Linked DNA regions of Homo sapiens: all the other regions are linked to region 1. The links come from fine-mapping of genetic effects on plasma protein levels. A gene starts in region 1. Each other region holds a variant in brackets. All regions are shown on one strand. Distances are between the middles of the regions.

Region 1 (10,433 bases):
CTGATGTTAATTTGGGAAAGTCTCTGTTTTTACTGCTTTAAATATTGTGTCTGTTCTTTTTTCCTTCTTCCCTTTCTGGTATTCCCATTATGAGTATGTTACACCTTTGCAGTTGTCCTGAAATTCTTAGATACTATTGTTTATTTATTTTTAGTTTTTTTCTCTTTGCTTTTCCACTTTGCAAGTTTCCATTGTCAAATCCTCAAGCTCAGAAATTATTTCTTCAGCTATGTCCAGTCTACCTGTGACCCCAATAAAGGCATTCTTCATTTTTGTTAGTGTTTTTAACCTCTAGCATCTCTTTTTTATGCTTCCTTAGAATTTCCATTCTGTGCTTAAGATATCCATCTGTTCTTGCAAATTGTCTACTTTTTCCACTCACCCTTAGCATATTAATCATAGTTATTTTATATTTATAGTCTGATAATTTTAACATCCATACCATATCAGGGTCTGGTTGTGATGCTTGCTTTGTCTCTTTAAACTGTGTTTTTTGCCTTTTAGTATGCCTTATAACATTTTGTTGAAAGGTGAACATGATGTACCAGGTAAAAGGAACTGGGGTAAACAGACCTTTAGTGAGGTCATGACAAGATGTGAAGGGAGAGGAAGTGTTTGACAGCCCTATGATTAGGTCTCAGTCTTTTAGTGAGCCTGTGCCTCTGGACTGTGAACTTCACAAATTGTGTTAATTGTGGTACAGGTGGATTTCACTTAGGTGGTACAGGATGGCAAGAGAGGGCTGTAGTGGGGTATTTTCTTTCCCATTAGGTTAGGCTCTTGAGGGCAGGTGATATGGTTTGGCTGTGTCCCCACCCAAAATCTCGTCTTGAATTGTAATCCTTGTAATCCCCACGTCAAGGGCAGGACCAGATGGAGGTAATTGGAACATGGGGGCTATTTCCCCCACGCTGTTCTCATGATAATGAGTGAGTCACATGGGATCTCACGGTTTTTTAAGTGTCTGGCATTTCTCCTACTTGCACCCATTCCATCCTGTTGCCCTGTGAAGAAGGTGCCTACTTCTCCTTTTCCTTCCGCCATGATTGTAAGTTTCCTGAGACCTCCCTGAGCCATGTGGAATTTATAAAGGAAACCTCTTTCCATTATAAATTACCCAGTCTCGGGTGTTTCTTCATAGCAGTGTGAGAACGGACTAATACAGCAGGCCTTGTTAAGAAGAACGAAATGCTCTAGTATATTTCAAAATGGTTACTCCCCTCTGTCCCTCTGCTACCTGCTATTTTTCTCTAATCTTTGCTATGAGAATTTGGTGGTTCTTATACGAGCTCCTGTAGGTAAAACTCACAAAGTATGAGGGCCTCTTTATGACTCGGGCTCCCTGGAGTTTTTGACTCTTATACTTGTCCACACTGAGCCTTGAGTGATTTAACAATGATAATTCAGGTTTTCCTACCCTGGTACTGGTTCCTGTGGAAATGAGTTTGTGTTCTGGGGAGCTGTGATTCTCTGTATATCCACCTGTCTGTCTCTCCAATTTTGGGGACAGTGGTTTGTCCTGTGACCTCACTTCTCTGATGGATCTAAGAAGAATTGTTGATTTTCAGTTTGTTTAGCTTTTTACTTGTTGTTAGGACAGATTTATGCCATTTAAGCTCCTTACATGGGGAACCAGAACCTGGAAGTCCCAGCTGTAAATATTGAAGGCATAATGATTTCTTAACTTTTATATTCTGATGCGTATTGTTTGGTTCTCTGCCTTTCCAAAATAGGAATTGACCCCATAATATTTCTGTACATTTTAACTGGGAATGTTAAGACCTGGATAAATTCTAATCTTGGCTCTGCTGCTAATGATGTTACCTTGGGCAAATCAGAGACTGAGTTTTCTCATCTATAAAAGTGAAGGGTGCAGACTCATTTCTAAGTCTCCTTCTAGCTTTAAAATTCTGAGGTGGGCGGATCACGAGGTCAGGAGTTCGAGACCAGCCTGGCCAACATGGTGAAACTCCGTCTCTACTAAAAATACAAAAATTAGCCAAGCTTGGTGTCGTGCGCCTGTAATCTCAGCTACTTGGGAGGCTGAAACAGGAGACTCGCTTGAACCCGGGCAAAGTTCAGTGAGCCAAGATCATGCCACTGCACTCCAGCCTGGGTGACAGAGCAAGACTCCATCTTGGAAAAAAGAATCTATATTTTATGATGTTACAAAATATTCTCTGATTTTGAACACTAATACCAGTACTCTGGGTAAACCTGTGTGCTCAAGCAGGTGCCCTATTATACTTTCTGGAATTTAAAAATAAACTTTTTATTTTGGAATAAATTTAGATTTATAGAAAAGTTGTTAGCCAGACATGGTGGCTCACACCTGTAATCCCAGCACTTTGGGAGGCTGAGGCAGGTGGATCATGAGGTCAGGAGTTTGAGACCAGCCTGGCCAACATAGTGAAATCCCATCTCTACTAAAAATACAAAAATTAGCTGGGCATGGTGGTGTGCACCTGTAGTCCCAGCTACTTGAGAGGCTGAGGCAGGAGAATCACTTGAACCCGGGAGGTGGAGGTTGTGGTGAGCCGAGATCATGCCACTGCACTCCAGCCTGGGCAACAGAAAAAAAAAAAAAAATAAAAATAAATAAATAAATAAATAAATAAATAAATAAATAAATAAAAAGAAAAGAAAAGTTGCAAAGATAGGGCTGGGCGCAGTGGCTCACACCTGTAATCCCAGCACTTTGGGAAGCCAAGGCCGATGGATTACTTGAAGACCAGCCTGGCCACCATGGTGAAACCCTGTCTCTACTAAAAATACAAAAATTAGGTGGGCGTGGTGGTGCACTCCTGTAATCCCAGCTATTCTGGAGGCTGAGACAGGAGAATCACTTGAACCCAGGAGGCGGAAGTTGCAGTGAGCCAAGATCGCACCACTACACTCCAGCCTGGGTGACACAGCAAGACTCTGTCCCCCGCCAAAAAAAGTTGCAAAGATAATGCAGAGTTCCTGAATACCCCTTACTGTTTTCCCCATTGGCAACATTTTATATTATTATGGTACATTTGTCAAAACTAAAAACCAGATCATGAATGGTACATTACTATTAGCCAAACTCTAGGCTTCTATTTGGATTTCACCAGTTTTTCCATTAATGTCCTTTTTCTGTTCCAGGATCCAATGCAAGCTACCATATTACATTGAGTCATCATATCTTTCCAATCTCCTCTGGTCTGTGACAGTTTCTCAGTCTTTCCTTGGTTTTCATGACCCTGATGGTTTTGAAGAGTGTTGACTAGATATTCTGTAAAATGTCCTCAAACTTGGGTTTTTCTGATGTTTTCCTCATTACTAGACTGGGCTTGTGGGTTTTTGGAAAGAAACCACAAAGATGAAATACCTTTCTTGTCACATTATATCAGGGATTGGTTATATCTATATAACATCACTGGTGATGCTAACTTTCATTAATTGGTTAAGGTAGTGTTTGCCAGGTTTCTCCACTGTAAAATACGCTTTTTGTCTTTCCCAACTCTGTTCTTTGGAAGTGAGTCATCAAGTCTAGCATACCCTGAAGGTGGGAGAAGAGAGGGAATTAAACTTCATTCACTTCTTAAAGATAGCAGTATCTACAGATCACTTAGAATTTTTCTATAAGGAAAATTAGTCTCTTCTTCCACATTTATTTATGCAATCATTTATTAATATTAATATGAAGTAATGTATATTTATTTTATACTTTGAATTATAATCCAGTATACATTATTCACTTTTTTGCTCAAATTGTTCTGGCTTTGGCTGGAAGTTCTTTCAGATTGGTTCCTGTGTCCCTTTGACATGCTCTATCCTTTTGCTTTTTCAACATTTCCTTACTATCTGGTACTACAAGATACTCCAGGCACATTTTGTATTTTCGTTGCCCAAGTCCTGAAATCAACCTTTTCTCCAAAAAGCTCTGGGTTTTAAAACAAATTACAATTTATCTGTTTTGGTTTTTATAAGCATTGCCATGATGACCATCCTTGATGTTATATCTCTGGAAAACTCCATGATTATTTCTTTTAGATAAATATCTAAAAGTGGAATTCCCGGATTAAAGGCATCTAAAATGCTTTTACTATGTTTTCCACTAACAAGGTGTGAGATGGGGGGGCTGCCTCAGGGGCTGCAACTCAAAGCCCACTTCAAATGGGAAACACTATCCATCCGTCAATCCATTTATCTATCTTAGAACTCTCTTTCTATGACTTTCTTATTTTCAAAACAAACAAGGAATAAAGAAAGAAAAAAATGAAACAAGTAAACAAAAGACCTCTCATCTAGACTCTCTAACCACCCAACAAATCACATTGCTCCTCCTAGGAGGAAATGGTTGAGGTGTCAGACTGAGAATGACATCTATTTCCCTTCATGGGGAGAGCACTTGTTAATTCACCTATTAATTCACTTTTAAAATATAATTTTACATTTTATCAAAGTAATACATATACATAGTTTAAACATTCAAGTGGCACTCTAAGACTTACCACGAATAACAGCAATACAGTGCTATATCCCTTCCCATTGCCAAACTTTCTTCACAGAAAAAATCACTTTCATTTCTTTTAGCTTTTTTTTTTTCTGGGGTTTATTTCCATATCTATAAAGAACATGTTTATACTGCAATTTAATTTTTTTTTCAATTTTAGACATTATCTATTGACTTCTTACTAACTATGGAAGATAAAGACTGAAGTCTCTTACCAATTCTATACACAAACACACACATATGTGCATCCTTTCCTAACCCCATTCTTTCAATATAGTTATAACTTTTGTTAAATCCATTAATGTTTTCATTGTTGTGACTCTATAGTTATTCATAGCTGAGCCACATATTGGACTTTAAATATATTTTCTTATATAACATTTTCTTTTTCCTGGAATTAATAATTATGCCATTTTTTGGTTTCCTTAACTTACTGAGCCGATTACTCATCCTTCTCCAAACTTTCTAAGAGTGCTGCAAAACTTTTCAAGTTTCAACATCTGTCAGATCCATTGGGTCCCCTCCATGTATTTTTTCATTGGAAATATCCCTCCTTGAGCCTGGCGTCTGCCACTCACTTGGGCTAGTTGCTCTCCAAGCCTGTTGTACTCTTATCATCTTGGGATCTCCCTTGGCCACCATTCTTGGAATTCTCTCTCTTCTATTTGAAATTTGCTGTTTTTGGGAGCCCATTTTTCCTTTTTGTTTTGGCTTATGCTCTTGTTTTTGTAGTCACTTTTTTCAATAACATCTCGAAAATGGTCACATGGGAGATAAAGTTCTTGAAACTTGGCATGTTGGAAAATGCAGTTTCAAGAACGTTGTTTTACCTTTCTTTCTGATGGATCATTTGGATGGGTAGAGCATCCTAGGTGAGAAATAATTTTCCAATAGAGTTATAAAGGAATTGATCCATTGCTTTCTAACTTCTGGTTTTGTTATTAAGTCTAAAGCCATTCTCATCCTTGATCCTTTGTATGTGACTTATTTTTTTCCTATCTGGAAACATTTTTTTTCTGTTTATTCTTGATATTCTGAAACTTCACTGTTTTGTACTTCAGTGTAGATTTATTTTCATTTATTATGCTGTTTACAGTGGGCCCTTTCAATCTGGAAACAAATGTTCCTCAATTCTTGGGAATTTTATTGTATCACTTCTCTCATTATTTCTTTCCCTCCATTCCTCTGTTCTGTGCTTCTGTACTGCTGGTAGTCAGATGTTGGCTATTCTTCATCTCTTTGTCTTTTCTTCTATCTTCTGGAAGATTTCCTCAACTTTATTTTCTAGTCTTTAGACTTCAGCTCTCATATTTTGAATCTCCAAGAGTTCTTGTTCTCTAATTATGCCTTTATCATAGCATCCTATTCATATTTTGTGGGTACAACATTTTTTCTTATTTTCTATGAAGGTTTAACTAATATTTCTTTTAAAAAATATTCTGCTTTCTGCATTGCCTTTCTTTCAAGTTTTTTCCCCCCATCTGCTGTTGGGATGGGAGAAATTTAATGAATTTGGCTTTGTGGGGTTAGGATTAGGTAGTCTATTTCTTTTTCAGATTTTCAACCAATCTTATGATTTTTGTTTCAGAGGTATAGTCAATTCTCATTATTCCTTCATTATTCCTGGCAATTATGTTCAATAAAATCGCCACAAACACTGAATTAGAAAATACTGCTGAGCGTGGTGGCTCATGCCTGTAATCCCAGCACTTTGGGAGGCCGAGGCAGGTGGATCACCTGAGGTCAGGAGTTTGAGACCAGCCTGAACAACATGGAGAAACCCCGTCTCTACTAAAAATACAAAATCAGCTGGGCTTGGTGGCGCATGCCTGTAATCCCAGCTACATGGGAGGCTGGCCTGAGGCAGGAGAATCACTTCAACCCGGGAGGTGGAGGTTGCGGTGAGCTGAGATGGCGCAATTGCACTCCAGCCTAAGCAACAAGAGCGAAACTCTGTCTCAGAAGAAAAAAAAAAAGAAAAAAAGAAAATACTGAATTATTCTCTGTGGGGGAAATATAGAGTTAGGTGCCTGTGAGCCTCTGGTCACAACATTTTTGTCAGCTAATCAATACATAACCTTGTTTTGTGTGTGTTTCTGTTTAAAGACACCTTATTTAATATACATTGTTGATTCATCAACATTGAACTCATGGCTAATAACAGTACTATGACTCATGCCTGAATAGAGCTTATTTAACACACATATTTTCTCCATGAGGCACAGCCTCCTTCTGCTTAGGAACACCAGACAGCACTCCAGCACTCTGCTTGGGGGGCATTCGAAACAGCAAAATCACTCATAAAAGGCAAAAAATTGCAAAAAAAAATAGTAATAACCAGCATGGCACTAAATAGACCATGAAAAGACATGTGTGTGCAGTATGAAAATTGAGACAGGAAGGCAGAGTGTCAGCTTGTTCCACCTCAGCTGGGAATGTGCATCAGGCAACTCAAGTTTTTCACCACGGCATGTGTCTGTGAATGTCCGCAAAACATTGTGAGTATTGATTTGGGGGGTTACAAATAATTCCTAGCAAGTAGGTGAATTCACAAATAAGGAAGCTGTGAGTAATGAGGGTTGATTTTACCTACCTAGTGTCTCAAATCCTGAGCCGTATGAGATTCCGTGGCATAATTATGTTTGCTTATTGTTGGCAACCTTATTAGGCATTTCTAGGTTTCTGCTTTCTCATCTTTACCAGTTCAGTTATGGCTTGATTCATTTCTCTTTTTCCAAAGATTTGTTGACATCTCTTATTTGCTGTTGCCTCTTCCCATTTGTTTTGTCTTGTGGTTCTATATCTTTGCCATAATTTTTGTGGAGTTTCCTGAGAGAGTAGAGATAAATGTATATGCTCAATTGGTCTTGTCTTAACCAGAATTCTATTTAATACACAACACCTTTAGTGAGCTGTTATGCATGTAATAGGTGTTTACTAAGTATTGGTTGAATAAATTCAAGAAATGCTTGCTATTTTTGTGCTAGCATTTAGCTTTTCTCTATAGTATATTATAATGGAATTTTATTTTATTTTATTTTATTTATTTTTTGAGACAGAGTTTCACTCTTGTCGCCAGGTTGGAGTACAATGGCACGATCTTGGCTCACTGCAACCTCTGCCTCCCGGGTTCAAGCGATTCTCCTGCCTCAGCCTCCCGAGTAGCTGGGATTACAGGTGCCTGCCACCATGCCTGACTAATTTTTTTGTATTTTTAGTAGAGATGGGGTTTTGCCATGTTGGTCAGGCTGGTCTCAAACTCCTGACATCAGGTGATCCACCTGCCTCAGCCTCCCAAAGTGCTGGGATTACAGGCGTGAGCCACCACGCCTGGCTGGAATTTTAAATATCTCATAATTATAATCTTCTAGGTAAAAGACTAGCTCTCTTTCTCACCCTTATTCCTCCTACTTAGTGGAACATTGCCTAAGGAAGATGGGGAATGGGTTAAAAATTAAAATGTGGGGCTGGAAAGCATAGCTTGTTTTAAAACTTAGTTTTCTTTCCTTTTGCATCATAATCTCTTCCCCGGTCTATTTATTTCTCGTGGTTTTGTCAGTCCATTACAAACGGTTGCAAAATTGTGGTACTAGAAGGGATCCTAGAAATAATCTAATTTGAACCTTTGATTGCTAGGAAACTGAGAGTCAGGCTGCCTTGGTTCAAGTCTTGGCTCCACCACCCATGTAGGACATGTTGCTTACTGTTTTGACCTCAGTTTCCTTGCCTATAAAGTGGGAATAAAAATACTCCTGATGTTATAGGATTGTTGTGAAGATTAAAAGAGATAATTAATGTGAAGTTCTTAGTACTATGCCTGACACACAGTAAGAGCTCCACAAATTATTAATGATGATTATTACTAGTGGCTAAACTGAAGCTCTGGTTTCTCAGTTCAGTATGTTTTCCTTTAGACGTAAATAAGAATTTGTAAGCCTCTTTTTGGAGTCAGCTACCATTATTTTCTTTCCTTCATCTCCTTCATTGTCTAAAGACAGTTAACATGATTGCGTATTTCTCATTTCAAGCTAAAGATACTCTCACTGTTTCAGCTATTACCACATTTGTAAGGACTTCCTGAAGAGAAAATTTAAAAGTTAGTCACTTCTTTTAGTTGTTTCTGGTCTTTCAGATGATCCTTTTTTTTTGTAGAGTTGAGTGTTTTTGTTTTTGCTTTTGTTTTTAGTTAACAATAATGCAATCCATTTCCCAGCATAAGTGGGTAAGTGCCACTTTGACTTGGGCTGGGCTTAAAAGCACAAGAAAAGCTCGCAGACAATCAGAGTGGAAACACTCCCACATCTTAGTGTGGATAAATTAAAGTCCAGATTGTTCTTCCTGTCCTGACTTGTGCTGTGGGAGGTGGAGTTGCCTTTGATGCAAATCCTTTGAGCCAGCAGAACATCTGTGGAACATCCCCTGATACATGAAGGTGAGTGCTAATTCATTTAGAAGAGTGATAGTTTGATCATCTTTTTCTACTTTATAAAAGTCTTTTTCTGTTTTCTTCAGTGAAATTATGGGTCAGACCCACCACGTGAATTTCTCCTTGAACTGGTTGTTGATAGTTAAGGGAATCTAATCTTTTGGCAGGCAATATTTTAAAATGCTGAGATCAGAATGGAGAATCATGAGTGTTAGAGGTGAAGGATTGGGGAAAATATCTGAAATAATGGATTTATCTTTCAGGAAACTCTAGGCTAGAGAAAATTAGACCTAGAGGATTCAGAGGAAAATCCTTGTGTGTACTGGTATTTCATGGCAGGAGAGCTGAGAGAGAGTAAATCACTAATAGCTACCACATGATTTTAGTGGAAAGAGTCCAGGTTTGGAATAAGACAGTCGTGAGTTTGAATCTCATTTATGCTGCTTACAAACTATTATTTTTGGACAATTTACATGATATCTCTTGGCCTCAGATTCCATATCCGTAAACTAGAGATGAGTAATACAAACCCTACACGGATTTTTAGAAGTACAGGATGTAATTTGTATAGTGTAGTTAGCACTTTGCAGGCTGTCACTGTTCCAACATGATAGTGCTTTTGCCAGTCTCACTACTGGCTGTCTCAGAATGTTCTTTAAATGAAGGCAGCCCACAACCCAAATGGATTTATAGACTTTGAAACTGGAGGTAGTCATCTGACAGCTCGCAATCTCATCTTGGGCAATGTATATATAATCAATATCCTCATCCAAAAAGTAAGGATGTCATTATTTTATTAGGCTGAAATTGCCAAGATTTAACTGTTTTTGACTTAATAAAAATAGCAATTTCATTTGATTTAACCTAAAACATAATATAGAAATAAAATTTAAAATATGCAGGCCGGGCAAAGTGGCTCACACCTGTAATCCCACCACTTTGGGAGGTCGAGGCAGGTGGATCACCTGAGGTCAGAAGTTTGAGACCAGCCTGGCCAACATGGCGAAACTCTGTCTCTACTAAAAATACAAAAATTACCTGGGCCTGTTGGCAGGCACCTGTAGTCCCAGCTACTTGGGAGGCTGAGGCAGGAGAATCACTTGAACCCGCGAGGCAGAGGTTGCAGTGAACCGAGACTGCACCACTGCACTCCAGTCTGGGTCACAGAGTGAGACCCCGTCTCCAGAAAAAAAAAAAGAAATAAAATATAAAATATGCAACTATAAATATAAAATATATAAATAGAAAATATAAAAATATCTGTCTCATTTACCTGAAGGGTGACAAGAATCTAAGGAGATAGTATACATGAAAGTGCTTGTAAATCTAAGGCCATTATTACTGCGACTATTATCATTACTGCAAGCTCCAAATAAACATTTAAAAGAGACTGAGAACAGGGCACCCTTCTACTTGATCAGTGAAAGTATAAACCAAGTCCTGTGGGTCTTGAGGAATTCTGAGGCACTGAGAGAGGCTGAGCAGTGCATCGCTTGACTACCTCCCTCTCAGTGTTATGAGTCT
Region 2 (8,000 bases), 34 kb after region 1:
AGTGTAATGAACAAGGGCAGAAACTTTGGTGTGGATACAAATGAGTCTTAGATTGGCTTCTTATTAGAAAGTTATTTTCCCTTTTCCAATACCAGTTTTATCTTCTGTAGAATGGATATAATAAATGTTAGGTGGTTGAGAGGATTCAACAAAATGATTCACCTAAAAAAATACTTATCAAGTGCTCAATACATATAAATAATTTTATGGAAATACTTAATATGTCTATTGTATACAGCTCTACTTACTAGTGGCCACACGGATTGATGACCACCCTTTAGTCCAGGCATCAGTACAAATTATTTTTTGAGTAGCTACCAAGAGTTTTCTGAATATTTTTACCCAGTTAATGTTTTAAAGTCCATGTCTCTAAGTAGGGATTTTGCTTTCTAAAACTCTTCAAGAATTACAAAGACCCCATTCTCCATGATGTGATTATTTTACATTGCATGCCTGTATCAAAACAGCTCATATGTCCCATAAATATACACACCAACTATGTACTCAAAAAATTAAAAATTTTAAAAATTAAAAAAAGAATTACAAAGACTAAAAAGATAATACTATTCAATTCTAGCTAGCAAGAGTCTGGTGAGATGGGTATTCATACAATGTTGATGGAAACTGAAATTGGTATAACCTTTCTGGAAAGCTAAATGGCACTGTGTGACAGCAGCCCTAAACATGGTCATGCCCTTTTACCCAGTCAGCCTCTGCTAAGGGGTCTAGGGAAACCACCAGAGATGTAAAGGAAAATTCAACCATCATCCATTTACTCATTCACTTAACAAATATTTGATACCTGCTAAATGTCAGGTGTTAATTCTAGACTCTGTGATCAAGACCAGCCTTTGTCCTCAAGGAGTTTTAAATGAAAAATTAGAAACACTATTGTTAGCGGTGGAAGTTATCTGAGTTACCAGCAGCAAATCCGTATGGGTCTGCAGCAACCTCAGTTCTTGCCTCCTCGGAAGAAAGAATTCAACTGAGGGGCATACGACAGAAGAAGAAACTGAGGCACGTTTTAGAGCAGGAGTGGAAGTTTATTAAAAAGCTTTAGAGGCCGGGCGCGGTGGCTCATGCCTGTAATCTCAGCACTTTGGGAGCCTGAGGCGGGCGGATCACGAGGTCAGGAGCTTGAGACCGTCTTGGCTAACATGGTGAAACCTTGTCTCTACTAAAAATACAAAAAATTAGCTGGGCGTGGTGGCAGATGCCTGTAGTCCCAGCTACTAGGGGGGCTGAGGCAGGAGAATGGCGTGAACCCGGAAGGCGGAGCTTGCAGTGAGCCGAGATCGCGCCACTGCACTCCAGCGTGGGTGACAGAGCAAGGCTCCATCTCAAAAAAAAAAAGAAAAAGATAAAGAAAAAGAAAAAAAAGCTTTAGAGCAGGAATGGAAAGAAGGAAGAAGGTAAAGAACACTTGGAAGAGGGCCAAGTGGGCATCCTGGAGGTCAAGTGCCCCGTTTGACCTTGGACTTTTCTGCGCCTTGGGTTTTCTACGCCGGCCTACTTCCGGCACCTTGCGTCCCATTTCCCTTGATTCTTCCCTTACGGTGAGCTGCCCACTTGCACGGCGGCCTGCTAGAACTTAGGAGGTGAGCATGCGCAGTGTATTTACTGGAGTCGTACGCATGCTCAACTGAGGCGTTCTTCCCTTTTCCATTGGAATGCCCCCAGAAGCTCATATACCAGTTAAACTCTGCCATTTTGCCTCTTAATGGCCATGCTTGAGCCCACTCGCCCAGTTCCTGAGATTTTTTTTTTTTTTTTTTTTTTTTTTTTTGAGACAGAGTCTCACTGTGTCGCCCAGGCTGGAGTGTGGTGGTGCAATCTGCCACCTCTGCCTACTGGGTTCAAGTGATTTTCCTGCCTCCTGAGTAGCTGGGATTATTGGCGCCCGCCACCATGCCCGGCTAATTTTTGTATTTTTAGTAGAGATGGGGTTTCACTATGTTGGCCAGGCTGGTCTTGAACCCCTGACCTCCTGATCTGCCTGCCTCAGCCTCCCAAAGTGCTGGGATTACAGATGTGAGCCACTGCGTCCAGCCCAATTCCTGAGATCTTACTGGGGAGCTGCCAATCACCAGTTACAGGTGTTTTTATATATTGGGAAACTGCCTTTCCCTGGTGCTGGCTACAGCCAATTATTAGGTTTGCAAGGCAGCGTGACAATGGTCTGAGCATCACCTGATGGTCACCTGACTTTCCTGGTGGGGTGTAGGGGGAGCCCTCTCCTGTCCTTCTCATGCCTGATTAGCTACCTACTGTAATACCATGAATGTGCGATAATAGAACATAAGTCAAAAAATTATGTTCATTCATAAAGTAGAATATTATGAACCTTAAAAATCATGTTTTGAAGAATTATTAATACAAAGGGATATATGCTGATTGCATAATGTTATTTTTAAAAAACAAAAGCTTTATTTAGCGTAATACCAATTTTGTTAGAAGATAATGCAAATAATTATACGGAAAACGGCTGAAAGGAAATATAACAAAATGGTAATAAGGGTTATCTCTGGTTGATGGGATAATGGATGATTTTTAGTTTTTCTTTGTATTTTTCTACACTTAAAAAATGTTGTATAATAAGCATATGCTACATTTATAACTAGAAAAATGCATATTTTCAAAGAGAGAAATTTAAGGCTAAAATGTTTGCAGTGTGCAAGGAAAATGAGAGTTATTTTCTAGTGTTTATAGTGGGTATTCCATCATCCTAGGGGTCAAGGAAGGAGAGGCCTAGGGGAGGTGAGAGTAAATAAGAGAGACAGCCTATTTTCTGGTTGTGTGGTCTCTTTTTACCTCCCTTCTGCTTGGCATAGCATATGACCAATCAATAAGAGGCTGATTTGCTGAAAAATCACAGGAATGCATCCTTCTCTCACTGGGTATTCCTTTTTCAGAGGTGTTGGGGTTGGGGGGGTGACATTCCTTTTGTACTGCCTTGCAAATGCCATCTTCGTTCCATATAGCAGACCACAATGCACGTATCATTTTTTTTCAATTTTGGGTGGATGCTATTAGCAAATTCTTATCTTTTTGCAGATATGAGAGTTGTATGATTTTTATTTTCAGCGAAAACTGAACCACCTAAGATTTTCCGTGTGAAACCAGTTTTGGGCATCAAACGAATGATTCAAATTGAATGGATAAAGCCTGAGTTGGCGCCTGTTTCATCT[G/A]ATTTAAAATACACACTTCGATTCAGGACAGTCAACAGTACCAGCTGGGTAAGTTATGCCATTATAATAATATTCCAATTAGAGGCCCAGAGGAAAAGAATCATTGACAACTATTGTTGACCTGGAATCATTATTTCACTTTTTACATTAAAAATAGAAGAGAGACATTGCTAAGTACTTCTCCTTCCAGTTTTCCATTTTTCCATCTGGACCTTTTAGATTGGAAGGGTGTTCTACAATAGGCATTTTTGCCTTCTGAGCACAGGGACATAATAAAGAGTGAGAAATTTACTTCTGCATTATATCCAAGTTTGTGTCTGGCTATGTTGGCTACCAGAGAGTCTATGGTTTGGCCATTTTATTTTTTATTTTTCTGACCTTTTATAAAATCATGAGGTATAACATACATTTGGAAAGGTGAACAAAACGTAATATTACATTTAACAAATTATTATTAAGTCAGTGCTCATGTAGAAACCACTGCGGCCAAGAATAGAACTTCTCCAGGATGCCAGAGCCCCCTGCTTACCCTTTGCTCATGACCTCTGTTAGAGCTGTTACCCTGATTTTCATGGTAATCTTCTTTGCTTTCATTTTTTACCATTTAAGGCTGCATCACTGAAGAACATAGTTTAAGAGACTATGCCCTGTTTCCTTGAGTCCCAGGATGAAGAAGCGCCCAGTAGAAATAGAGGAGGAGCATATAAAGGGAATCCATATATTTTGTATTTTCTAATGTTTGGCTTCTATCTCTCAATATTGTGCTTTTAAGACTTATTCATGCTATATAATGCTGTAGTTTATACATTTTCATTGCTGTGTAGTATCTCATAGTATGAACATGATGGAATGGTGGCTTTAATTTGCATTTACCTGACCTTTAATGAAGTTACACACCTTTTCACATGTTTATTGGCCCTTTGGATTCCTTCTTCTGGAAGCGCTGATTTAAGCCTTTTGCATGTTTTTTCTATTGGCTGGTCTGCCTGATTTTTCAATTGATTTGTAGGCATTCCTTACATATTCTATTTATGAGTCTTTTATTTGTTACGTGTATTGCAAACATCTTTCACTATGTGGCATGACGTTTCACTCTCTTAATGGTGACTTTTGAGGAATAGTCACTTAATTTTAATATGGTTAGAGTTTTATCAGTCTTTACCTTTATGCTTAATGCCTTTTGTGTCTTAGGAAATGTTTTCTTACCTCAAAGTCAAGAAAATATTCTGCAGTTTCCATCAATGCAGCCTGAAATTGTATCACCTTTTTGTAATCATCTCATATTTATTGCCTTTTTATAAATTTTAGACAGGGTCTCACTCTGTTACCCAGGCTGGAGTGCAGTGGTGTGATTGCAGCTCATTGCAGCCTTGAACTCTTGGGCTCAAACGATCCTCCTGCCTCAGCCTCTCGAGCAGCTAGGACTACAGGCATATGCCACCATGCCTGGCTGATTTTTAAATTTTTTTTGTAGTGTTGCCCAGGTTGGTCTGGAACTCCTGGTCTTAAGTGATCCTCCTCTCTCAGCCTCCCAAAGTTCTGAGATTACAGGTGTGAGCCATCATGAGCAGACACATTATTGACTTTTAATCAACTATTAGCCAATTAAATCTTTAAGACTTTTTACCTCCTGAAGACTTGCCAGTAAAACATACCTCTACTATCTTATCATTTGTTGGTTTTTAACCTAAGTTCAGGTGTTTTATTTATTCTTATTGAATGTCTTCATGTTGGTCTTATCTATCATTCCAGCCTATTTAGAATCCTGTTTGGTCACCCAAAACTTATGATTAACTTTTTACTTTTTAACTTTTCAGTATCCCCAGATTTGATAACACTTCCTTCTATACCTTTATCTAATTATTAATAAAAATGGTGACTACATCAGAGCCCTGTGGTAAACCAGTAGAAACCATCCAGAGGATCAACCCCTCCTTTGGATATGGTCATTTATTCAGGTTTCTATGAATATACCTAATTACCACTATCATCATTCAGCCTACTTTTTTTTATCTTGTCCAGGAGGCTATCATGCGACCCTTTCCCTTGTGGAAACCCATAGACACCCTGTTTACTGCAGCATGCTCTCCTTGTCTGGAACTCTTTCAGAAAAGCATTATTTGTCCTATTGTTGCAGAATTTTTGCTCCTTAGTTCAGCTAAATCCGGGTTCTTGTGTCAACAGGAAAAATTAGGCACGTGGACACATTGAAGGGTGAGGAGAGAGGAATTTATTGGGCGAAAAGGAAAAAAGAGAAAAAAATTCTCAGCAAAGCGAGATGGGCTCCTGCTAACAGGCTACCACCTCACAGACTGAATACCAGGCCACCACACAGGAGCTAAAGAGGCCAGGCTCCTTCCCCCTGCACAAAGCGTGAACTTCCCGTGGCTCCACCCCATTCTCCCAGTGCACAGGCGGGTCCCCAGTCTGTTGTCGACATGCGCGGACAAGACCCTGGGCAGGTTTCCTCATCTACACAAAAGCATCTGATGTAAACACTTGGGCGGGTCAGAGATTCTCTGGGAACCCCCCTTATCTGCCTTCTGCCTCTATCACTGTGTTCAGAGAGATGATAATGGCCACTTCTCCCCCCAGCTTCCTTTCTAAGCCAGCTCTGGAACCATTCTCTTTGAACCTGCCTACATGGAACATTAGATTCATTAATTGTAGTTTGGGGAACCCCTAAGCAGAGCAGTCCCCGGTATAGCACAAGCTCCTCTTCATACCACATGTCATGGTCTCCGTGAACCTGAGAAACTTCTGGGATAGTCTACTGGCTATAAACCCTTAATTCCTTCTATTTGGCTGAGTGCAGAGTTACTACAGCTGCTGGGGGATAGGATTCAACAAGAAAAATAAACCAGGACCAGAGTCCCTCTGGAAAATTACTATACCGCATATAACACTAAGTGAGGGCAACGGGTATAAACTACCCAACCCTTGGCATCCTGTACCCCGTATCTTTAACAAACTCACCCACATCTGTACTCATCTTTGCTTCCTGCCAGTCCCAGAGGTAAAATGTCCTGCCTCCTGTTTTCCTGGAGGATGCAGGAAGGAAGGTGGAAGTCTGTACTACTCTTTCTCTCTCCTTAGCTAGCTTGCTTGCTTGCTTGCTTGCTTTTTTTTTTTTTTTTTTTTTTTGAGGTGGAGTTTCACTCTTGTTGCCCAGGCTGGAGTGAATGGCATGATCTTGGCTCACTGCAACCTCCACCTCCGGGGTTCAAGTGATTCTCCTGCCTCAGCCTCCCAAGTAGCTGCGATTACAGGCTTGTGCCACCACACCTGGCTAATTTTTTGTATTTTTAGTAGAGATGGGGTTTCACATGTTGGTCAGGCTGGTCTCGAACCCCTGACCTCAGGTGATCCACCTGCCTCAGCCTCCCAAAGTGTTGGGATTATGGGCATAAGCCACCATGCCTGGCCTTCTCCTTAGCTTTCAAATACAAGCAGTTATCCTCAGTTGCAATCCCAGCTAAACCCAACTCTGCTCTTCCCAACCTTCTATCAAAGATTTCCATTGTTGATGGAAAAGGGTCCAAATTATTAACTCTGTGAGACCTGGCATCTACCGATCCCTTCACGCTCTTGCTCTTGCCTCTCTGGTCATTCTGAATTGCTTGTTTCCCTTGCATCATGTTCTCTCACTCTTTCTGTGCCTTTCCTAGAACACCCTCTGCTTTTGCACCTCTCCTGCCCCAATCTCCACCTTTCAGAACTCAGGCCTGACATATTTCCTTCTGAGGGCCTGGGCCTGGTCCCTCCTCTGCATGCTTCTGTCATTGCACTTAACAGCAATGCATTTCAACTTTCTCTTCCAGTTACACTGTAAATTCTTCAAATGCAGGGACCTTAGTTTTCATCTGTTTTCCCTTTGCCTGGTGCATGCCTGTGCTCAATAAATATTTGTTTAAATGTAGCCATGTAAAACTAATGCTAAAATTCCAACATGTCCGTTTAACAAGACCCATATTTGTATGATATTATGAGTAACAAAGAGCTTCCTTATACTCCAAATTATTTAATCCTTGCAAATATCCTGTAATTGAGGCCTTGCTATCCCCATTTTTGCAGATTAGGAAATCAAGATGTTGAAAGCTTAAATCATCTATTCAAGATCACAGGGCTTGTCAGTTGCAAACCTAAGCTCAGGTTTTCTGTCTCCCAGGTTTGCCATCCATGTGACCTTACCTCAACACCCTCCAGATTCTTTTGTGGCCCTAGTCTAAAGGGTTTGCACCTTTGTATAATAAAGCCATGTGAGCCTCTTAGAAAGGGATCTCAAAAGTATTTTAAGAATTTGATTTATGGACTGGGTGCAGTGGCTCACGCCTGTAATCCCAGCACTTTGGGAGGCCGAGGTGGGTGGATCACCTGAGATCAGGAGTTAGGGACCAGCCTGGCCAACATAGTGAAACCCTGTCTCTACGAAAAATACAAAAAAATTAGCCGGGAATGGCCGGGCACGGTGGCTCACGCCTGTAATCTCAGCACTTTGGGAGGCTGAGGCGGGTGGATCACAAGGTTAGGAGATCGAGACCATCCTGGCCAACACGGTGAAACCCCGTCCCTCTAAAAATACAAAAAATTAGCCGGGCGTGTTGGCAGGCACCTGTAGTCCCAGCTACTCGGGAGGCTGAGGCAGGAGAATGGCATGAACCCAGGAGGTGGAGCTTGCAGTGAGCCGAGATCGCCACCGTACTCCAGCCTGGGTGACAGAGCAAGACTCTGTCTCAAAAAAAAAAAGAAAAAATTAGCCCGGCGTGGTGGTGCGGACCTGTAGCCCCAGCTACTGGGGAGGCTGAGGCAGGA
Region 3 (8,000 bases), 63 kb after region 1:
GGAAATGGAAGGAGTTGTTATAATTTGTCCTGGTTAGGCCCTGAATTGACCTCCCGGGAGCTCCCCGACCATCATTCCCAGGAATGGCGTGCCTGGCTTAAAGAGTGAGGAGGAACAGACCCTGTCACCATGACTTCTACTGCCCCTGCCAAATCATGCTTTTGTTTTTCAGTCCACCTTATCTCCTGACATCTTAAATACTGGGCAAGGCTTGGATTCTTGCTTAGGCTAAATAATTTTTTCTTATGGTAAAATACACGTAAAATATTTTTCCAGTTTAAACATTTGAAAGTGTACAATTTAGTGGCATTAGAAGCATTCACAATATTGTGCAACCATCACCACTATTTCCAGAACTCTTCTATTTCTGCCCAAATAGAAGCCCTATACCCATTCATTAGTCACTCCCCATTCCTCTCCTCCCACAGCCCCTGGCAACTACCAAACTGCTTTGTGTCTCTATGGATTGCCTATTTTGGATATTTCATATACATAGAATCATAAAATATGTGGTCTTTGTGTCTGGCTTCTTTCATGTAGCATGTTTTCAAAGTTCACCCATGTTATAGCATGATTTTGTACTTATTCATTTTTATGGCTGAATAATATTCCATTGTGTGGATATTCCATATTTTGTTTATCCATTCATCAGTTGATGAACATTTAGGGTGTTTCAACCTTTAGGCTATTGTGAATAGGGCTGCTATGAACAGATGTCTGCTACGAACATATGCTGCTGTGTACAAATATGTGTTTGAGTTTGTGTTTTTCGTTCTTTGGGGCATATACCTAGAAGTTGAATTGCTGGATCATACTGTAACTCTAGTTTAACTTATTGAGGAGCCACCAAACAGTTTTCCACAGTGACTACTCCACACTATACATTTTTTACTAGCAATGTATGAGAGTTTTCATTTCCCTGCATCCTTGTCAATACGTGTTATTTTTCATTAAAAAAAATTATTATGGCTGTCCTGGTAGGTATGTAGTGGTTATCTCATTGACTTGCATTTCCCTACTGACTAATAATGTTGGGCATCTTTTCATGTAGTTTTTGCCCATTTGTATATCTTTTTTTTTTTTTTGAGACGGAGTTTTGCTGTTGTTGCCCAGACTGGAGTGCAATGGCACGATCTTGGCTCGCTGCAACCTCCACCTCCCAGGTTCAAGCGATTCTCCTGCCTCAGCCTCCCAAGTAGCTGGGATTGCAGGTGTGCACCACCACGTCCAGCTAATTTTGTATTTTTAGTAGAGATGGAGTTTCTCCATGTTGGTCAGGCTGGTCTCGAACTCCCGACCTCGGGTGATCTGCCTGCCCCAGCTTCCCAAAGTGCTGGGATGACAGGCATGAGCCACTGCGCCCGGCCAGCCCGTTTGTATATCTTCTTTGGAGAAGTGTATTTTTCATCTTTTTTCTTATGTTTAAATTGGGTTATCTTTTCGTTATTGAATTTATAAGAGTTCTTTATATATTCTGGATATAAGTTATTTATCAGATATATGATTTGTAAATATTTTCTCCCATTCTTTGGATTATCTTTTCATTCTTGATATTATCTTTTGATGCACAAAAACTTTGAATTTTAGTGAAGTCCAGCTTGATCTATTTTTTTCTTTTGATGTTTGTGTTTTTAGTGTCATATCAAAGAAACCATTGTGAAATTCAAGGTTGTGAAGATTTATCCTATGCTGTCTTCTAAGAATTTTTATAGTTCTAGTTCTTATATTGAGGTCCTTAATCCATCTTGATATTTAAGCAGGACATGAATAGGGGTCAGAATATGAGACAGCTGAGCTTGGAAGCACAGGTTCCAATGCTCTTATTTTGGTGCTACTGGGACACAATTTTCAGTCTGGTTTGGCTGTGGTGTTTGACCTTTGTATTTTTCCTTTAGCCAAGACAGTCAATTCCAGCATCTTGCAGTACGGCCTGGAGTCCCTGAAACGAAAGACCTCTTACATTGTTCAGGTCATGGCCAGCACCAGTGCTGGGGGAACCAACGGGACCAGCATAAATTTCAAGACATTGTCATTCAGTGAGTATTTCCTTCAAGCCTTAGGTACCTCTCCCTCACGTTTACCTTACATCAGAGAGAAATGACATCTGCCAAAAGCTGGAGGAAGCCAAATGAAAGGGCAGTGCCTAGTGCCCTGCCATCCTGCTCTCTGTTCACCAACCTTCCTGGAAAGCATATAGGTGAGGAGATGGGAGGGAAGAGCAGGCAAGTTGAGAGCCGAATTTGGAAATGCTGGTCATTTTGGTCGTTCCTCATGGGCAGCCACAAATCATCTGGAGGAGGAGGTGTCAAATTAATGCCAACTTCAGTCTTAGCACCAAACCAGCTCCCATCTCAAGGCTGTCTCCCCGTTCATAGTCACCAGTTTCTGCATGTTATAGGTTACGGTATGTATTAGTCTGTTTTCACGCTGCTGATAAAGACATACCCGGGACTGGGTAATTTATAAAGAAAAAGAGGTTTAATGGACTCACAGTTCCACGTGGCTGGGGAAGCCTCACAGTCATGGTGGAAGGTGAAATGCACATCTTACATGGTGGCAGTCAAGAGAGAATGAGGACCAAGTGAAAGTGATTTCCCCCTATAAAACCATCAGATCTCATGAGATTTATTCACTACTATGAGAACAGTATGGGGGAAATTGCCCCCATGATTCAATTATCTCCCCCTGGGTCCCTCCCACAACATGTAGGAATTATGGGAGCTACAATTCAAGATGTGATTTGGGTGGGGACACAGCCAAACCATATCACTGTACAACAGGGCCTTCAAGGGAAAACCTTGGTTAACTCAGGACTACTGACCCATAGGAAGGGGCTTAACCTCATCATTTGTGGAGGTTTTTTTTGAGCAAAAAGACATATGATATATTTAACTTACCCACTTTTACATTAAAAAATAGCAAGAAAAATTTACTAGAGACAACAAATAATGTAAAATAAAATGTAGCTTCATATGATGGCTGGTTAAGGGAGATATTTAGAGGCAGGCAGATGGAATGAGGAGGGGGATGAAGCAGAAAGAAGGAAGGAGAATGGGAGAAACAGATATATATTAATTTTGCTAAGTCCTTGAGTGACAGAGATTTGATTTTTAAGTACGTACTAAAACTGTCTTAAAGAATGAACAACGCTTTTTAGATTAAAAATGAAGGAACACTGCCAAGTTTTTGCAATAACTGAGGCAAGCTAAAAATTGCTTGAAATATTCTTGAAAGCCTCTTATGCATCACATTTTTCAAGAATAAAATGCTTTATCACTCTGGAAAATGTGAGTATGACATGTTTTTTTTACAGAGAAAACATATTCTGTTTTGATGGACTAACATTGCCCTCTAGGAACTCTTTTTGATATGCTGTTTAAATTTTTTTAAAGCTGTATTGAATTTTTGCAACACTGGGCACAAATTTCATCAGCTCAAGGAGTTTTCTCCAAGGGTTAAATGAAGGCAAGATCCAGCCCTGGAACCTAGAAGTTTCCTACCCTGGTCTATAGATTATAAATCACCCTGCTTCCATTTTTGATCCTCTATAATCCATTTTCCACACAGCAGCCAGAGTTTCAAACCCTGAATTCTCTGCTTAAAAGCCACAGTGACTTTTATTATATTTTAAAGAAAATCCAAACTCCTTCCTATAACTTTCAAGGTCTTTCATCATCTGTCCCTTACTGACCACATTTTTCCTACTGCTTTCTGCCTCTATTTATCTTCCTTACCTTGTTGCTGCTTCAAAGCTTTTGCATCCACTGTTTCTTCTGCCTGGAATGCTTTTCTCCATGGTTTTGCATGGCTGGATCCTTCTCACTATTAAGATCAGCTTGAATTTCACTCCTTCCTTGGACACCTTAGCTAAAGTTGCTGTCTGGACGCAGTGGCTCATGCCTGTAACTCCAGCACTTTGGGAGGCCAAGGCAGGAGGATCACTCAAGGCCAGGAGTTCAAGACCAGCCTGGCCAACATGGTGAAACCCAGTCTCTGCCTAAAATACAAAAATTAGCCGGGCTTGGTGGCACGTGCCTGTAATCCCAGCTACCAGGGTGGCTGGGGCAGGAGAATCACTTGAACCCAGGAGGCGGAGGTTGCAGTGAGCCAAGATGCACCACTGCACTCCAGCCTGGGCAACAGAGCGAGACTCCATCTCAAAAAGAAAAAAAGTCTAAAAATTAGCTGGGCATGATGGCTTGCACCTGTAAGTCCTAGGTACTTGGGAGGCTGAGGCAGGAGGTTGCTTGAGCCCAGGAGTTCGAGGCTACAGTGAGCTATGATCATGCCAGTGCACTCCAGCCTGGGCGACAGAGCAAGACCCATCTCAAAAAAAATTTATAAAAATTAAAAAGTAAGTGCTCAATAAGTATTCACTGAATGAATGCTGTTGGAATGAATGCTGCCAGGAAGACACCTAGATGGGGAGGCACAAAATTCTGTTTTTTGTTTTTGTTTTTGTTTTTGTTTTTGAGATGAAGTTTAGCCCTGTCGCCTAGGCTGGAGTGCAACAGCATGATCAGCGCTCACTGCAACCTCCGCCTCCCAGGTTCAAGCGATTCTTCTGCCTCAGCCTCCTGAGTAGCTGGGATTATAGGTGCACACTATCACACCCGGCTAATTTTTTGTATCTTTAGTAGAGACGGGGTTTCACTATGTTGGCCAGGCAGGTCTCAAACTCCTGACCTGGGGTTTTTTTAGTGGAAAGAAATTGAATTTAACTGAAAGAAAACTAATAAGACATTGTGTTGCTGAAGCTACTAGAAGAAAAAGTTAATCATTGATTTTTGTCAAGAAGGTGAGGAACTCACTACTGACTTTTGTTCTTTGTTTTTCAAAGGTGTCTTTGAGATTATCCTCATAACTTCTCTGATTGGTGGAGGCCTTCTTATTCTCATTATCCTGACAGTGGCATATGGTCTCAAAAAACCCAAGTGAGTCTGCAGACAACAGTGGGTGCCTTAAAAATCAGGGACAAAAAGGGGTTGAAGTCATCATAGGTGCTTCGTAGGAGAGGGCACTCTACCATTAAGGGGTGTTCATTCATTTATTAACTTGGTGCGTATTTATTGAGGTTATTAAAGGCCACGCTCAGTGGCTCACCGGAATTCTGACCAAGCAAGAGCACTTTCGTTTCCCAGAGCTCCATGCCCAGGTCTAGGCCTTTTTGAGGCCAGGAGAGTGCCAGCTGCCCCACAGGCTCTGTCTGCTCCATTTGCCATCTGAGACTGGAGTTGGAGAGCAGACCCTTTCTCTCAGTGTCTAGCAGGGCCCCTGGCTGCAGCAAGAGGCCTTCTTGCGAGCTCTGTCTCAGGCAGAGCGGGGAGCAGTGTCTCCACGGTGTTGGAGTGCTGGCCAGTCGTCTGTGGGTGCAAGCTTATTGCTTGCTTGTGGTGCAGTGTTGAGGGTCTGGCTGCAGGGGCCTTTAACCTGCTTGCCCTGGCCACTGTGGGGAAGAAAGCATGTCTTCAGGGTCTTAGACTTTCTCTCTGCAGTGAGCCTTATGGCACCCTAATGGTCCTCCCCTGGTTGAGCTGTCTCTCCAAATTAGACAGTTGTGAGTCATCTCTGTCAAGCAGCTGCACTTAGTTAATGGTCAAGCTAATATCAACCTCCGTTACCAACTGTAGGTAATAACCAAGCCACCAGCATAGATTCTTGTACATTATGCACTTAAGTAATCATTTTGATCTTAGCATGCATCAGAATCAGGCCTCACCCCCAAAGTTTCTGATTCAGTGGTTCTAGGGTAAAGCCCCAAAATGTTCATTTCTAACAAGTTCCCAGGTGATCCCAATGCTGCTGGTTGGGACCACACTTGGAGAACCATTGCAGGAAAGTATGGGTAGCTTATAAGGTTTATAAAATGTTGTCTTTCCCAGAGGATAAGCCTCAAAGGAATGACTCTGTGATGGTGCAATTTACAGCATTGGGACCAGGTATGGAGATGCTGGGATGGGAGAGAGGGGAAGATAGGCTTTGTATGGGGAGAGTCTCCTTTGATCACATCCCACAGAGAACTTGCAATGTCACCCCCCAACACACACCGCAAAACAACTCCACTTTCCCAGGTTCTATTAGGCAGACATGCCCTTATTTAGGAGGGAAACTTACAATTCCCTTTAGCACAGCCTCACTCTTTTGACTCAGCCATATGGTGCTAATGCTTCTTGGATTCAATTCCCATCTTAAAATCTTCTCTCTCATTAGCAAATTGACTCATCTGTGTTGGCCCAC[C/T]GTTCCCAACCCTGCTGAAAGTAGTATAGCCACATGGCATGGAGATGATTTCAAGGTAAACTCTCCTGTTTTTATTAAGGAAATCATTGCCGTGGGAGGTAGACGAGGTGAATGGAGATGGGGAAAGAGTCCTAGGCTGAGCTTTTTTCAAGGTTCACATCAAGAGAACTGGAGTTGAAAAGTCTCAGGGAATGGCAGGCAGGGCAGATGGACTCAGCCTTCCTGGAATGACTTTGACTTCATGCTTTGACAAGGGGAAAGGGCTTCACCAGGCTCATGAGGACCCAGTGCGTTCCCAGGTGGAACTGGTCCCATAAAGGATGCTGCAGAATAAAGACACTGGCCCTACCCTTCCTGACCTGATGGGCTAATTAGAGAGAGAGGAGCCTTGGCTATAGGATTTGAAGCCATTTACAAAGCAGCCAAGAGCACATTAATCTAAAGACTGTCTAAATATCACCAGGGAATGTTGATGGGCATGGCAGTCTGAGGCTGCCTCAGGTTGTTTTTCTCAGGCTGGGGACGTCAGAGTCAGGCTTTATTTAACTGGCATTGGGGTTTTCTAGTGAGTATTCCTTAACTAGAAACCCTCCATTTGCATAAATTTTTAAGTGGAAAACCGTTAGGGAAATTTTAAGGTTTAATTTCTTGCTTACGTAGAAACAAGCCCAATCAAATATAACCTTTAAATCCTTGTTACTGAAAGGCTGTTTCCAGTTTTTCCTTGATGCACAAATTTTAAATATTAGTCCTCGTTCCCACTCAGAAGTCTTTTTTGAGCATGGGCCTTTTGTTATAATGGGCTTTCTTTCTGTTTCCTCCTCTTATCAGTCCGGTATACTGGACTGATTTATACCCCCATTTACTTTCCTGCTTATTAAATGTCATTTAGAGAGTAAATGGATTCATAGGCAGTGCTCTCTGATAACTAACATGCTTTTTGAATAATCCGTAGGTTGGACCTCTAGAGCCGGCACTTATTAATCACTCACTACATGCCAGGTGCTGGGCTAGGCCCTAGGGATACAAATGACAAAGTCACTGTCCCTGCCATGAGGCCACTTCTGATTTTCTGGTGAGGTTGAACAAGTCTGTCTCTATGATGTGGTTTTTCCATCCCTAAGAGTTCTAATTTTAGTTCTTCCATCTTAACTGGGGTTTTGTGAACATGGGATTGTGTGGAAAATAGCCTTGCACACTCTAGCAGAAGAAATTGTTTGAATTGGCTGGGTACAGCGGCTCATGCCTATAATCCCAGCATTTTGGGAGGCCAAGGCAGGGGGGATTGCTTGAGCTCAGGAGTTTAAGACCAGCCTGGGTAACATGACAAAACCCCATCTCTACAAAAAATTAAAAAGTAGCCAGGTATGGTGGTGTGCATCTGTAGCCCCTGCTACTCAGGAAGCTGAGGGGGAAGAATTACCTGAGGCTGAGAAGTTGAGGCTGCAGTGAGTGGTGATCATGCTACTGTACTCCAGCCTGGGCAACGGGAGTGAGACCCTGTCTCAAAAAAAAAAAAATTATATACATATAAATAAATAAATTTTAAAAATTGTTTGAATCCAGGGCACTGTTTCTCAGGAAATGTGCCACTCCTTCCAAGCTCTGTGGAAGGGCATGCAGAGAGGGTTGGCTACCACTTCTGGGCCTGGGAGGAAGGTGGGGGCTGTTCCAGAGATGGGCATTTGCTGTCCCAAGCCTAACGAGTTTTTGGCTATGTCATATGTGACTCCTAAATGACCACTTGGGATGTCCCTTTTTCT

Alleles and levels. Positions count from the first base shown, and alleles are read on the strand shown. Strength reflects both the effect of a copy and how common the allele is.
For the plasma level of the protein whose gene starts at base 6,705 in region 1, G is the high allele of the variant in region 2 and A is the other (strong association).
For the plasma level of the protein whose gene starts at base 6,705 in region 1, allele T in region 3 goes with a higher level than allele C (strong association).

What was found. PIP is the posterior inclusion probability: the model's chance that the variant is causal. The UK Biobank Pharma Proteomics Project read protein levels with antibody pairs (Olink). The fine-mapping took linkage between variants from a reference panel, not from the people measured, so its PIPs are less certain.
Region 2: its variant is fine-mapped to the plasma level of the IL31RA protein (UK Biobank, PIP above 0.99). The variant lies in the coding sequence of IL31RA. If it changes the protein, the assay may bind it differently, which can mimic a change of level.
Region 3: its variant is fine-mapped to the plasma level of the IL31RA protein (UK Biobank, PIP above 0.99). The variant lies in the coding sequence of IL31RA. If it changes the protein, the assay may bind it differently, which can mimic a change of level.

Annotation. Positions count from the first base shown.
Region 1 is chr5:55,844,653-55,855,085 of GRCh38, forward strand. It overlaps IL31RA (interleukin 31 receptor A), which reads left to right and starts at 6,705. Exons shown (of 15, transcript NM_139017.7): 1 at 6,705-6,981. The coding sequence starts at 6,919.
Region 2 is chr5:55,879,960-55,887,959 of GRCh38, forward strand. IL31RA (interleukin 31 receptor A) reads left to right here. Exons shown (of 15, transcript NM_139017.7): 5 at 3,085-3,236. Among named protein-coding and RNA genes, the nearest start is that of IL31RA, 33 kb to the left of the region's middle. The variant G/A (reference allele first, on the strand shown) is at 3,189.
Region 3 is chr5:55,908,637-55,916,636 of GRCh38, forward strand. IL31RA (interleukin 31 receptor A) reads left to right here. Exons shown (of 15, transcript NM_139017.7): 12 at 1,896-2,036; 13 at 4,841-4,934; 14 at 6,211-6,292. Among named protein-coding and RNA genes, the nearest start is that of IL31RA, 61 kb to the left of the region's middle. RefSeq lists an enhancer at 2,182-3,381. The variant C/T (reference allele first, on the strand shown) is at 6,238.